Homo sapiens: one gene and its partner. The protein of the gene in region 1 interacts with the protein of each later gene in a pairwise test. Each region holds a gene or a part of one and is shown in the gene's direction. Other genes may lie near its edges.

Region 1 (7,041 bases):
GGGGCAAGCTCAACCCTTCTGCTTCAATAGCAGGCAACAGCAAGGCACACACACACCCACGCCGTCTTGGAGAGGGGCCCCTTCAGGATGAAGGCTGCAGACAGGGCCACCCAGCTGTGTAGCGAGTACCAAAAAAAGAAGCCTGAGCACTGCCCAGGGTGCAGTGTGGACACAGGGCGTCTCCAGGAGCATCTGAGGGGTGCAGTATGGACACAGGGAGTCTTCAGGAGCATCTGAGGGGTGCAGTGTGGACACAGGGAGTCTTCAGGAGCATCTGAGGGGTGCAGTGTGGACACAGGGAGTCTTCAGGAGCATCTGAGGGGTGCAGTGTGGACACGGCGTCTCCAGGAGCATCTGAGGAGCTGACTGCCGTGCCCCATTACTCTGAGCCTGCGCCTGACTGCATTCTTCCCTGAAGGACTTTGTGTTTGTGTTCTTTACTCCTCTTCCAAGGCCACACGGTCCACGTTTTACTCACTTCTTTCTGCTCTACAATAACTCCACTCTCACTGTTACTGTTACGCTCCATGCAGGAGCCCTCCAGTTTGTAAATGACCCATGGGAGATGCGTGCCTCCTGCTGGCTGGGCTGGATTCGCCCATCCCAGGCTCTTGCATCCATGTCCCAGTTAGTTTATCGACCGCGATGCTAATGCTAGATAATCCTGTGCATCATGATTTGGGGGATTTCATTCACTTATTCGTCTATCCATTCTTAAGCATGTATTATAAATGGACTGTTTTCCAAGCCCCATGCCCAGTGCTGAGCACATCAAATGATTAAGTCTTGGGCCCTGCACCCAAGGACCTCACCACATCTGCCCGCTCCAGAGGGTGTAGTTGAAATTGCAACTTCTGAGCATTAGGCCCTGCTTTCCAGCTTCCTATATTAAACTGGGCTCCCACGAGGGTCCTGCCCATTCTCTGGTGTAGGCAAATCCTGCCGTCAGAGGAGAGGGCGGGGATTTTCTCACTGCTCTAACGCTTGCACCAAAAGCAGTGCTGAAACGTGTTGGGCACTCGATACTCGAGCTCTTGCGTCTTCCAGGCTCCTGGTCTGTTCTTTATAAAACTTCGCTGAACATGCCCTGTTAACTTCCTGTCCCTTATTCACAAAAGAATCCTCTTTACCTGGGGGTCAGCAGAGGAAGCCAGGGATTTCTCTGAGTCCCTGCGAACGGCTGTGCATGGCTTGCCAAATCATTCACCTTCAGGGTCCAAGGAGGAAAACCCCCACCAGAGCAGCCTTGCTTTGTCTTAATGTCACATGGATGTCCACACTCAAGGATGATTGTAAAGCCGGCAGGATGATGGCACCTCAAACCCGCCAGCCAGCTCTGAGCTGGCGCTTGTGATTTGCGGCCACGGGCCTTCTCACTTGCTCTGTGGGAAAACGGCCCTGTAGTCTGTTTGGGCTACTCCTAACTCTGCTCTCCTTGTCTCTGCAGCCTCCGTGGGAGTTCGATGGATGATTGGTGTGACGGAAATTGACAAGGGCTCTGCCTACGGCAACTCTGACAGCAAGCAGAAACTGAATGACTGACTCAGGGAGGTGTCACCATCCGAAGGGAACCTTGGGGAACTGGTGGCCTCTGCATATCCTCCTTAGTGGGACACGGTGACAAAGGCTGGGTGAGCCCCTGCTGGGCACGGCGGAAGTCACGACCTCTCCAGCCAGGGAGTCTGGTCTCAAGGCCGGATGGGGAGGAAGATGTTTTGTAATCTTTTTTTCCCCATGTGCTTTAGTGGGCTTTGGTTTTCTTTTTGTGCGAGTGTGTGTGAGAATGGCTGTGTGGTGAGTGTGAACTTTGTTCTGTGATCATAGAAAGGGTATTTTAGGCTGCAGGGGAGGGCAGGGCTGGGGACCGAAGGGGACAAGTTCCCCTTTCATCCTTTGGTGCTGAGTTTTCTGTAACCCTTGGTTGCCAGAGATAAAGTGAAAAGTGCTTTAGGTGAGATGACTAAATTATGCCTCCAAGAAAAAAAAATTAAAGTGCTTTTCTGGGTCATCTGTGGTGTATGTTGACATGGACCGCTGCCCCTCCATCCTGCCCTTGCCCGTGGCTTTGGTGTTTCAGATCCTACTCACGGGAGGCAGCTGCCGCGGAGGTGTGGGCAGCTGAGAGGGGTGGGCAGGCCAGCACAGCTCCTGGCAGGAGACACAGGTCCAGGAGCCCGTGAGCATTTGTGAGAGCAGAGATGGCAAGCACGTGCGTGGAGACCAACGAAGCGTGTCCCTGGCACACAGCAAGGGAGAGTTTCGCTCGGTCTCTGCAGTGCAGTCTCCTGGCGTAAGTCTTGAAGATGGACCCAACTCCCTGAAGAAATGGATCTTGAAATTGAACACAAACATCATGAACGTACAGCCTGGGCATTCTGCAGTGATTTGTGAGATGAGCTTGCATCGACTGTTCCTCTCAGCAGTGACAGCCAAAGTCACCCCTGATAAAATGCAGTTTCACTTTATAAAATGCCTCGCCCCTTCCCAGCATGTAGAGCTTGTCTGCAGCCCTAAAGGAGCCAGGTCCTGCTCTGATGAGGGTCAAATCAGAGCCGACATCCCATGTACAAAAAACCCCCAGGCTTCTGCCTTCCTTCCGGGCTCCTGTCTGCTCCCATTTTACTCCACGGAATAGTTCTGCCCTGTAGCATCTCCAGCGGCCTTTGCAGACTGCTGTCAGCCAACAGGTGCCAAAAATGCAAAAGAAGAAGAAACTAAAAGCAGTGCTATTTTTGCAGAACAAATGCTAGCTATTAAATCATCTTAGGCCAAGACACCAATGGCACTTGGACCGATAGGTATTTGGAGCATGAGTTAGGAAGGATATGTCTTTCTCCAGGTGCGCAGCTGAAAGTTGCTGAGAAAAGCTGCCTGTGTTGCTGTGGTAACATGAGAAGGAATGAACAGCTCTATACAAAAACTGGCCACACATTATAAGGCCTATTCTATGCAGTTATGTTTTTGGCTATTTGCTCATTTAGTCATTGTTTATCAACCAAACTAGGTAAGCCAAGGAGTTACAAGACAGCTCTAGAGAAGCTCCCTCTGCTTACAGGACAATAATGCATTGTTTGTTTGTTGATACAAATGAATTATTTGAATCCACAGAAGTGAAAAAGGGAAAAAATCCTGGCTGACTTGTGGGAAGAGCGTACTGCAGAGCCTAGGGCCTGAGTTAACTCGCTGGCGGCCCTGCAGGCAGGCTTGATGGGAGCGCCCAGCACATCTGCCCACCCTGCACAGGGCATGAAGCACCGTGTGCAGAGATCTGTGGGCAAAAGCCCAGGACGTGACCTTAGGCAAGAGGGGTCCTTGGAGAAGTGGAGGTGTGCATGGTGTGTAGCCTTGCGTGTCTGTGAGCACGCCCTAGTGGACCTGCGCCTGGATTATCGGGCCAGTCTCTCGGAGGGGTCCGTGATGCTGAGTTACGCCATTCACCTGAACTCTGCAGCTCATCGGCTGTAGGATTTGGGTGAGACACTTTTCCTTGCTGACTCATTTCCCCATCTGCAAAATGGGGGTGACGATATCTACCTCTTGGGGTGTGTCAAGGGTAAAAGAGCACACTTTAAGAATCCTAAAGCACTAAGCCAAGGATGAAAGACTAGAAAGCTGCCTCTATGTTGCTACTCTCAAAAATGCTCAGAAATTTTCTTGTCGTACTAAAAATGTGTTATTTTTCTCATTTTCATTCTTCCATTCAACACAGAAGTAATCTAAGTAAGTTCTAAAAACATAGATCCGGGGGCCCACAGACATTCAATTTTCTTCTGAATTGGCTCTGGTATCACACAACACACAAGCAAGCAAACAGCCTGCCTGCTAGGGCCTTGGGTTCCAGGCTGGAGGAATGCAGGCAGAAATCTCTTAGGAAATAACTAAGTGAGCGCCAAGTTTTGAATTGCCTTAGAGCCGAAAGAGAATGTGGCGTGCTGGGGAGAGATCTGGACCTCTTTCTCATCAGTCATTTGACCTGTCCACGAAGAACAATTTTGTTATGCAGCCTGGGAACCTGGTTTCCTTACACCCTGCGCCCTTAATGACACAGACAACCACGGGTACTCCTGGACGGAAGCTCATCACGCCTCCTCAAATACCTTCACCCATGTTCAGGTCACACGGAGGTCACCATCTCCTCAGCACACAACAACTGCTTTGGTTCCCAGGGTTATTTTTTCTACGAGTTGAAAACCCACGGAGCCTAAGCCATCTTTTTGTCCCCTAAGGAGAGCCCCATAGACTAAGAGCTACACTTCCTGTCTGTCTTTCCCACCTTTCCATCTCATTCTAGCTTAAAGCTTATCACGCTACTGAGAGCCTGTTCTGTAGTTCAAGGTGGCAGAGAAAAATACGAACCTTGAGTGAAATCTGGAGAGCAGTGCAGGGTCATCCCCAGACGTGACGGGCCATATCCTAGGCGACTCCTGCAGCTTATAGAAGCAGGGAATTTAATGGACTTCTTCCAGGAAAGCCAGCCCACGGGGACTCTTAAAAAGACACCAACCATTTGGAAGATGCAGCTTGAGGTCTGGGGGACTGGACTGATTCTGCCACCATATAGTGAACACGATTAATCGGGAGGAAGAAGTAAGGCACTCTGTGAGTTAGTCTACCACCCTATTGACTTTGACAGAGAGAAAACCAACTTTTTTCATATGATCACACAGTAGTACTGGAATATCTCGACTGCAATATCCTCTAAACAAATGCATGCAAAGCTTTGTAAAAGCAGCTGATGATTAAAAAAATTTTAAAACATTAGGGTTTTTCTAATATATCCATATGTGGGACAGTGATTTAAATGTCATTAATTGTCCAGCCACAACTTGTAACAGTGATGTGAAAGACACAAAAAAGGCCCCACTGGAGTGGAGGAGTGGTCTGGCTGGTCCCCAAGCAAAACAGAATGGGCTTCGCATAGGCTTTAGAACTTATTCATAAATATTGACCAAAGTGTGAAGCAAGGTATCCAGTGAAGATTCTCTAGGGTCTCTACTTCTGCTCAAGAGATTTAATCCAGCTTTCTCTAAAGCAGTGGTCCAGACTTGCCACATACTAGGTTAAAGATAAAGTGAGAAAAACAAATACTTTGGTTTGCACGTCTCTTGAGGGGCCCTAGGCTGTATGGAGGAATATTTAGAGGAATATTTGTGAGCTGCCATTTGTGTTTAAAAGAACATGAAAGCAAGACGGGCCCTAACCCGCCTGTGTCTGTAGCTGACCAGGAGGCCACTGCTTCCTTCCCCCAGAGCTTCTAGGAGAGCCCCCCAAAATGCAACTCTCCAAGGTCCTGTGGAGTAGTCCCCTCATAATGCCTCCACCACACCTGTGTCTCACGATGCCTTAACTGACGTAGCTCCTAAGTGATGTTCACAGAGAAGGAAATACTTAGGCAAGCCCATGTGTAACATGCTCACAGATGTGCTGGCTTTGCCAATGCTTTCGGACTCCACCATGCTTTCTGATTCTTCTGGTCCTAGTCACGCCTTGGCACGGGGCAGAAGCGGCCGAGCTATGCTGACAGGTGCTGCTGAGAGCCAACAGCCATTCAGCCGAGAAGGCGTTTCTAGGTGAGGGCATGAGAGCTGGCATTCCAGGCTGCTGAGTGCGGCATCTGCAGGTGCACCACATTGCTCCACGGTGTGTTCAGAAGAGACCAGCATCTTGAATCTCAGGCTCTGGGCTCATTCTTTGCCTCTGCCAAGGGACCATTCAGGGGCTTCAAGCCAGCTGCTGAAAATCCCCCTTTTCTGGATTTTTCCCCATCTATATAAGGATATGGTGGCTGTGTGGACAAGAAATTGGTTTCATCTCAGAAGGGTGCTTCCCTACAAAGATCTTCAGAAATTTAATTGAAAACAATTTTTTGAACTTTTTTTGTTTGGCCAGGATGAATGAAGCTGAAGTCACATCCTGAATGTGCATGCCAGACAAAGGGTAAGCAAGCAGTCTTTACAAATGCCAATCCCTCTGCACTCCAAAACCGGAGCCCGTAATGAAGGCCCAGGTTCCAGTCATCACAGGATCCCCCAAGCCAGCACAGTGCCTGATGCCTCCCTAGGCATTAGCACATCCCAGCACTCTAATTCACATCCTCAGCATCCCTGCCTCCTGCATCCAGGGCTTAGGTTGAGTGTTTCCAGAGTGTCAAGTACATTTAAACACAAACCAAATACTCCAGGGTTTTGACCTGTCACAATGGCTTTTGAAAACAACAGACGTACAATTTGAGAGAAGGACTCGATGGACTTCTTAGGCTGAGGACTAAGGACATGTTGCTGTTCCTCTTGGTCCAGGACATTCAATACCATTCACAGCATTCATCACCAACTGACATAGTATCGATCACGACATTCAACTGTTTGAAATTACTGCTATTTTGGTCAAAAACTAAGAAATCAGAAATTGCACCTACATAGTGTGTCTCCTCATTGGAGTCCCATCTCTCTGAGCACAGGGATGGGCTCCTGAGCTCACAGCCCTGCCCTGCCCCCCCAGCAGGGCCTCACCCTCATGGCCCTCAGTGAATAGTGACTACATGAAGGGGGCACTTACTAGAGGCCTGAGTAATGGAATTTCAATTAGCTTCTGCTTCCCTTTTCTAAAAAAGAACCACCTTTCTTAAGAATAATTAGGCCAAAATAAACTTGAGTAATTTGTACAGTCAATATTTTGAAGTTTCGGAGTTACCAGTGAAATAGCAAAGCTGTTCTCCAGGAAAGGACATCCAGGTTCCCACCCAGGCCTTCCTTCCTCAGCTCCTGCAGCCTCATCCTAGTTTAATATGAAGGTTGTGAATGGGTTAAAAAGCAGTTCTTAAGCACCTACTTAGATCTTTTCAGTATCTGGAAATAGCACCCAGGGCTGTGTTAGTAAAGCTTTTCACTGGGTAAGAGTCATACAATTTTTACATTTAATTTGTTTTTTTAAAACAAGGCAGTCTTGTTTTACATATTGGAATGACTAGATATTTTTTGACATTTCTGGCACCTCTGGTTCTGCTGAATTTTAAGGGAGGTGAGTGGTATGTACACAAAGTTA
Region 2 (4,009 bases), on another chromosome or scaffold:
TTATAGGGCTGTGAGCATGGGGCTGGAGCAGCCAGGCCCTTTGCATCCTGGTGGGGCAGACCCGGGACTCGCTGATGCACACAGGGGACCCCAGAGTTCCCCCACAGTGTGTGCCCCTCCTTTCTTATATCCTGGATCCAAGCAGAGGAGCAGCATGGGGAGGTCATGGAGCCCCCTCTTGGACCTAGATCTGGGGATTCTGGCCCCTGGCTTCAGAGGCCCAGGTGGAGCCCACACCTTCTCCTGCACCTGCTCTCAGACACTCGGCTCCACCTCACTGAGGTACCAGAAGGGCAGCTGGGTTCCTATGGAATTCTGGAAGCTTTTTTCAGCTTCTGCTGGCTCTACACTGGGGAGGTCTCAGGGGCAATGCCTCAGCCTCCCCTTGGGGGGAAAGACAGGAGCTGGGGGTCTCTCAGGCACCTGGCCCTGCGATGGTGACACTGACGTCATCGTGATTTGTCGCCATGGTTCTGATGTGGTCACAGTCTCTCAGGCATGTGCAGGGTCCTAGGAAGCATACGAAGTGCATCAGGAACCCCCTCCTGCCCCCGTTGCCGAGGCAGCACTGCCCTCTGCTAGGAACAGCTCCGTGTTGGCCTCTCTGTCCCCACACACTGGGCCTGCAGGGCTTCTCCGAGACTCTTCAGTTCAGGTATCAACCCTGGGCTGTCTCCTGGGATGTGGGGGGCGGATGTTCTTTCCTTGCCTCCCCACGCTCCTCCTGCGGATCCTTCACTCCGGGTGGGTCGGCCTCTTCCTCCTGATCAGCTCCAGAGCCCCCTCTAGTTCCCTGGCATGGAAACACGGCCCGGGTGAGCTGTGGTGGCCCCGGAGGCCTCTCCGCTCCTGCACAGGCCTTGCTTCCTGCGGGTGACGAGGTCCTGGACTCTCTCCTGCCCAGGCTTCTGGGTGCTTTCCTTAGTTCAGCACCAGTGCTCTGTGTGGGCAGCGTCTCCCCCGAGGATCCGCAGCTCCGGGTTACCCGCAGGCGTCCATCTCCGGTATGGTGCTGCCCTTCACTGATCCTGGTTGTATTTCTGTTTCCTGCTTTCCTCATCGCCTCCTGTTTCGGTTGATTCCTTCTTTTTGCTGGTGCCCGTCTCACAGTAGCTTCCTGAGAACGGGGACCTGGCAGGTACACTTCAGACCTCCTGTGTCTGAAATAGTGTCCTGGTTCTGACCTGCACTTGAGTGTCGGTGAGGCCTGGGCAGGGTTCCGGGTGGGAGCTCAGTTTCGTCCTGAGTTTCTCAGGCCCCAACCATGGCCTGTGGTGGCTTCACGGGCTACAAGGCAAAGGACGCAAACGAAGAGGCTTCACGTGACAGGGTTGTATGCTCAGCCAGCTCTGGAGGCTGGAGTCTGAGCTGGCAGCACTGACAGGGTCAGCTCTCCTCGGAGGCTGCTGGGGAGGAGCCTCCTGCCTCTTCCGGGCTCCGGGGGCCTCTGGCACCCCCGGTGTCCCCGGGCTTGGAGACGCAGCACTCCCATGTCTGCCGGTTCCCCTGGCCGCCTCCTCTGTGTCATTGTCTGTTCTCTTCATATAGGGACACCAGTCATCGAATTGGAGGTTCACTCTACTCAAGTATGACGTCACCGTGATTTCACTGATTTTATGTCCCAGGCCGTATTCTAACAAGGGCACATCCTGTGTTCTGGGAAGGGCGTGTCGCTGGGGAAATACTCTTCACCCGGCTGCAACCTCTCACTGTAGAACTGCCTCTGTGGAGAAGCCCAAAGGGCATTTGCGGCTTCTAGGAGCCAAGTAGGAGGAGGCTGGGATCCGTGTTTCAGGCGGGACTCCAGGCTTGGGCGGGCCTGATACTCGAGTCCACATGCCCCCTCTAGAGAGGAACCTGTCTCCTGCCAGGGCCAGGGAGGGGGGCACTGGCTGCTTCTGTATTTTGGGGTTTGGGGCCCTGGAGCTTCCCATGCGGAATTGCCGTCCCTCCTCCTAGGCGAGTCCCAGGGCCACCCCATCCCACAGGGACCCGGGCGCCAGCTTCTGAAAGCATGGGGCATCTGCGGAAGAACTGGGTTGTTTCCCAGCTTTCGTCCCTGCGGAGGGGCGATCCGGCCCCTCCATGTCAGCAGTGTTTGGTCGTCCACATGCTTGTCAGCCCCACGCTGTGCTCCTGCGTCTCTTCCCGTCTCATCCATCTGGATGCTTGACACCTCTGACAGCATCCCTTTCCTGTCATCTTAGGGCAGCTTCAGGAAACCGAAAAACAGGCTTGTGTCCTTCCATTAACCCCTTTATCCACAAGTTCAGTATCAGCATGAGCCCTGGGGAGCTCCAAGGCTGCAGCCAGGAGCCCCGTAGCCAGGTGTGGACATGGGGCTATCTCCCTGGGTGTGAGCGGCCACCGGCACCTGCTGGCAGCACCCCTGAGCAGGTCATCCCGCCTCCCTGGGCCTGCCCTCCTGGGAACAGAGCTAGGACCAGTGTGGGCCTGGAGGGCCGAGTGAGGGGCAACTGTAGGCAAGCTGTAGGCACAGGGGCCACTGTCAGGAGCCACAGCAGCTGCAGGTGGTGACAGGCAGGGCCCCCTCAGGCCAGCCCTAGTGGAGCTCACACACTGTGGGTTAAATCCTTAGAGGAGTGAGATCAAACTTGAAGAGGATCTACTCTCCCCTTCTGCCCGGAACACCTGCCCTTCCCAATGACCTGGAAGGCAGGCGGGGATTTAGGAGTCTCTGCTCCTGGAGTTCTGGGAGAACGTTCGCATGAGGATTTAGCCAGGCCCAGCCTCCCACCCAGGGGCATCCACATCTTTCTTGTCCACTCACATCCCCCACCTCTACGCCAGGCCACAGCCCTGCAAGCAGCCACCCTGGGACGCCACATCAGGTCCCGGAGGAAAATGGCCACAGAAGCTCTGGGAGTGGCTCAGGACAATGTGGGGGGAGGGGAATTCCAGTCACTCATCCCAGAGGGTGGTCCAGAAGTACAAGGAACCCCACCGGCTTGCCCCCGTCCCCATGGCTGGCATACCCAGAGAGAGGGGCATGACCAGGGCGGGAAGACCAGGACCAGGCAGGAGCTGGGCCTCAGGGTTCTTGGGGCTCCTGGCCAGGCTGCCTGGCTCGCCTGTCCTGGCACAGGCCTGGGAGTGGGTGTCCTGTCTGTGTTTGGGCCCAGGAGCCCCGCGGCCCACCTGGGACCTGCCTTCTCTTGCAGGGATGGTCCTGGCTGTGCTGCTGCACCAGGGCCGCCTTCCCCACCTTTTCCAGAGGAACCTGTTCTACGGCCAGAAGAACAAGTACCGAGCACCCCGAGGGAAGCCGGCCCCGGCCTCAGGGGACACCCAGACCCCTGCAAAGGGGTCCAGTGTCCGGGAGCCTGGGCGCAGTGGTGTTGAGGGGCCACATTCCAGCTGAGTGGCCTTGCTCTGTGTGAGCCCCGTGCGAGGGCCCTGCTTGTAGCTGGACCCTGGAACCTTCTGTAGCTAAGAGGGAATCCTGGCCCCCTCCCCAGAAGCCATTTGTCAATAAACCATTTCTAAGACCTGTGTGTCCCCCTGGGCCCGAGAGAGGCTTCTGGAGGGGCAGGCAAGGGTGTGCGGCAACACGGTGAGGCTGGTCCGAGTCTCCCCATCTCCCGCGGGCTCCTTCCTGCCTCTTGTTACAGAAGAAGCAGGAGAGGAAAGGGCAGGATGACAGGGAAGAGCCCAGGGAGTCCGCCAGGTCCCAAGTCTGCCAAGATGATGCTGCAGCCCTGGACATGCCCGGGAGGGAGCCCACAGCCACGGAGGCCTGAGACCCGATGGGATGCTGAGGATGGTGCTGGAGCCTGAGGCTGTAGGCTTGTGAACTAGGCACAGGGCACCCAGTCCCACGGGCCCTGAGTTCGCGACCGTCAGGACCATGGTCCGCTCGCCGCCCAAAGCCAGGTCAATCACTGAGACCTTGGTGGCAGAACTGGGACCTGGAGGCATGGCACCTCCAGCCATTTCCTTCCCAAAGAACAGAGCCGGTCTGGAAACTTCCACCCAAAGGAGATAACGG

What was found. Proteins that work in one complex are often made in the same cells at the same time.
Region 2: the proteins of AGPAT4 (region 1) and AQP12B interact in binary tests that used the Homo sapiens proteins (3 or more experiments, as listed by UniProt).

Annotation. Positions count from the first base shown.
Region 1 is NC_000006.12:161,131,041-161,138,081, reverse strand, and holds part of AGPAT4 (1-acyl-sn-glycerol-3-phosphate acyltransferase delta), read left to right. Parts: intron 1-1,447; coding exon 1,448-1,542; 3' UTR 1,543-7,041. UniProt on the Homo sapiens protein: Converts 1-acyl-sn-glycerol-3-phosphate (lysophosphatidic acid or LPA) into 1,2-diacyl-sn-glycerol-3-phosphate (phosphatidic acid or PA) by incorporating an acyl moiety at the sn-2 position of the glycerol backbone.
Region 2 is NC_000002.12:240,675,918-240,679,926, reverse strand, and holds the end of AQP12B (putative aquaporin-12B), read left to right. Parts: intron 1-142; coding exon of another isoform or gene 143-441; exon of another isoform or gene 442-488; coding exon of another isoform or gene 489-655; exon of another isoform or gene 656-904; coding exon of another isoform or gene 905-1,004; exon of another isoform or gene 1,005-1,116; intron 1,117-1,548; coding exon of another isoform or gene 1,549-1,586; intron 1,587-2,207; coding exon of another isoform or gene 2,208-2,328; intron 2,329-3,182; coding exon 3,183-3,382; coding exon of another isoform or gene 3,383-3,401; 3' UTR 3,402-3,509; downstream 3,510-4,009. UniProt on the Homo sapiens protein: Putative aquaporin. Could form homotetrameric transmembrane channels, with each monomer independently mediating water transport across the plasma membrane along its osmotic gradient.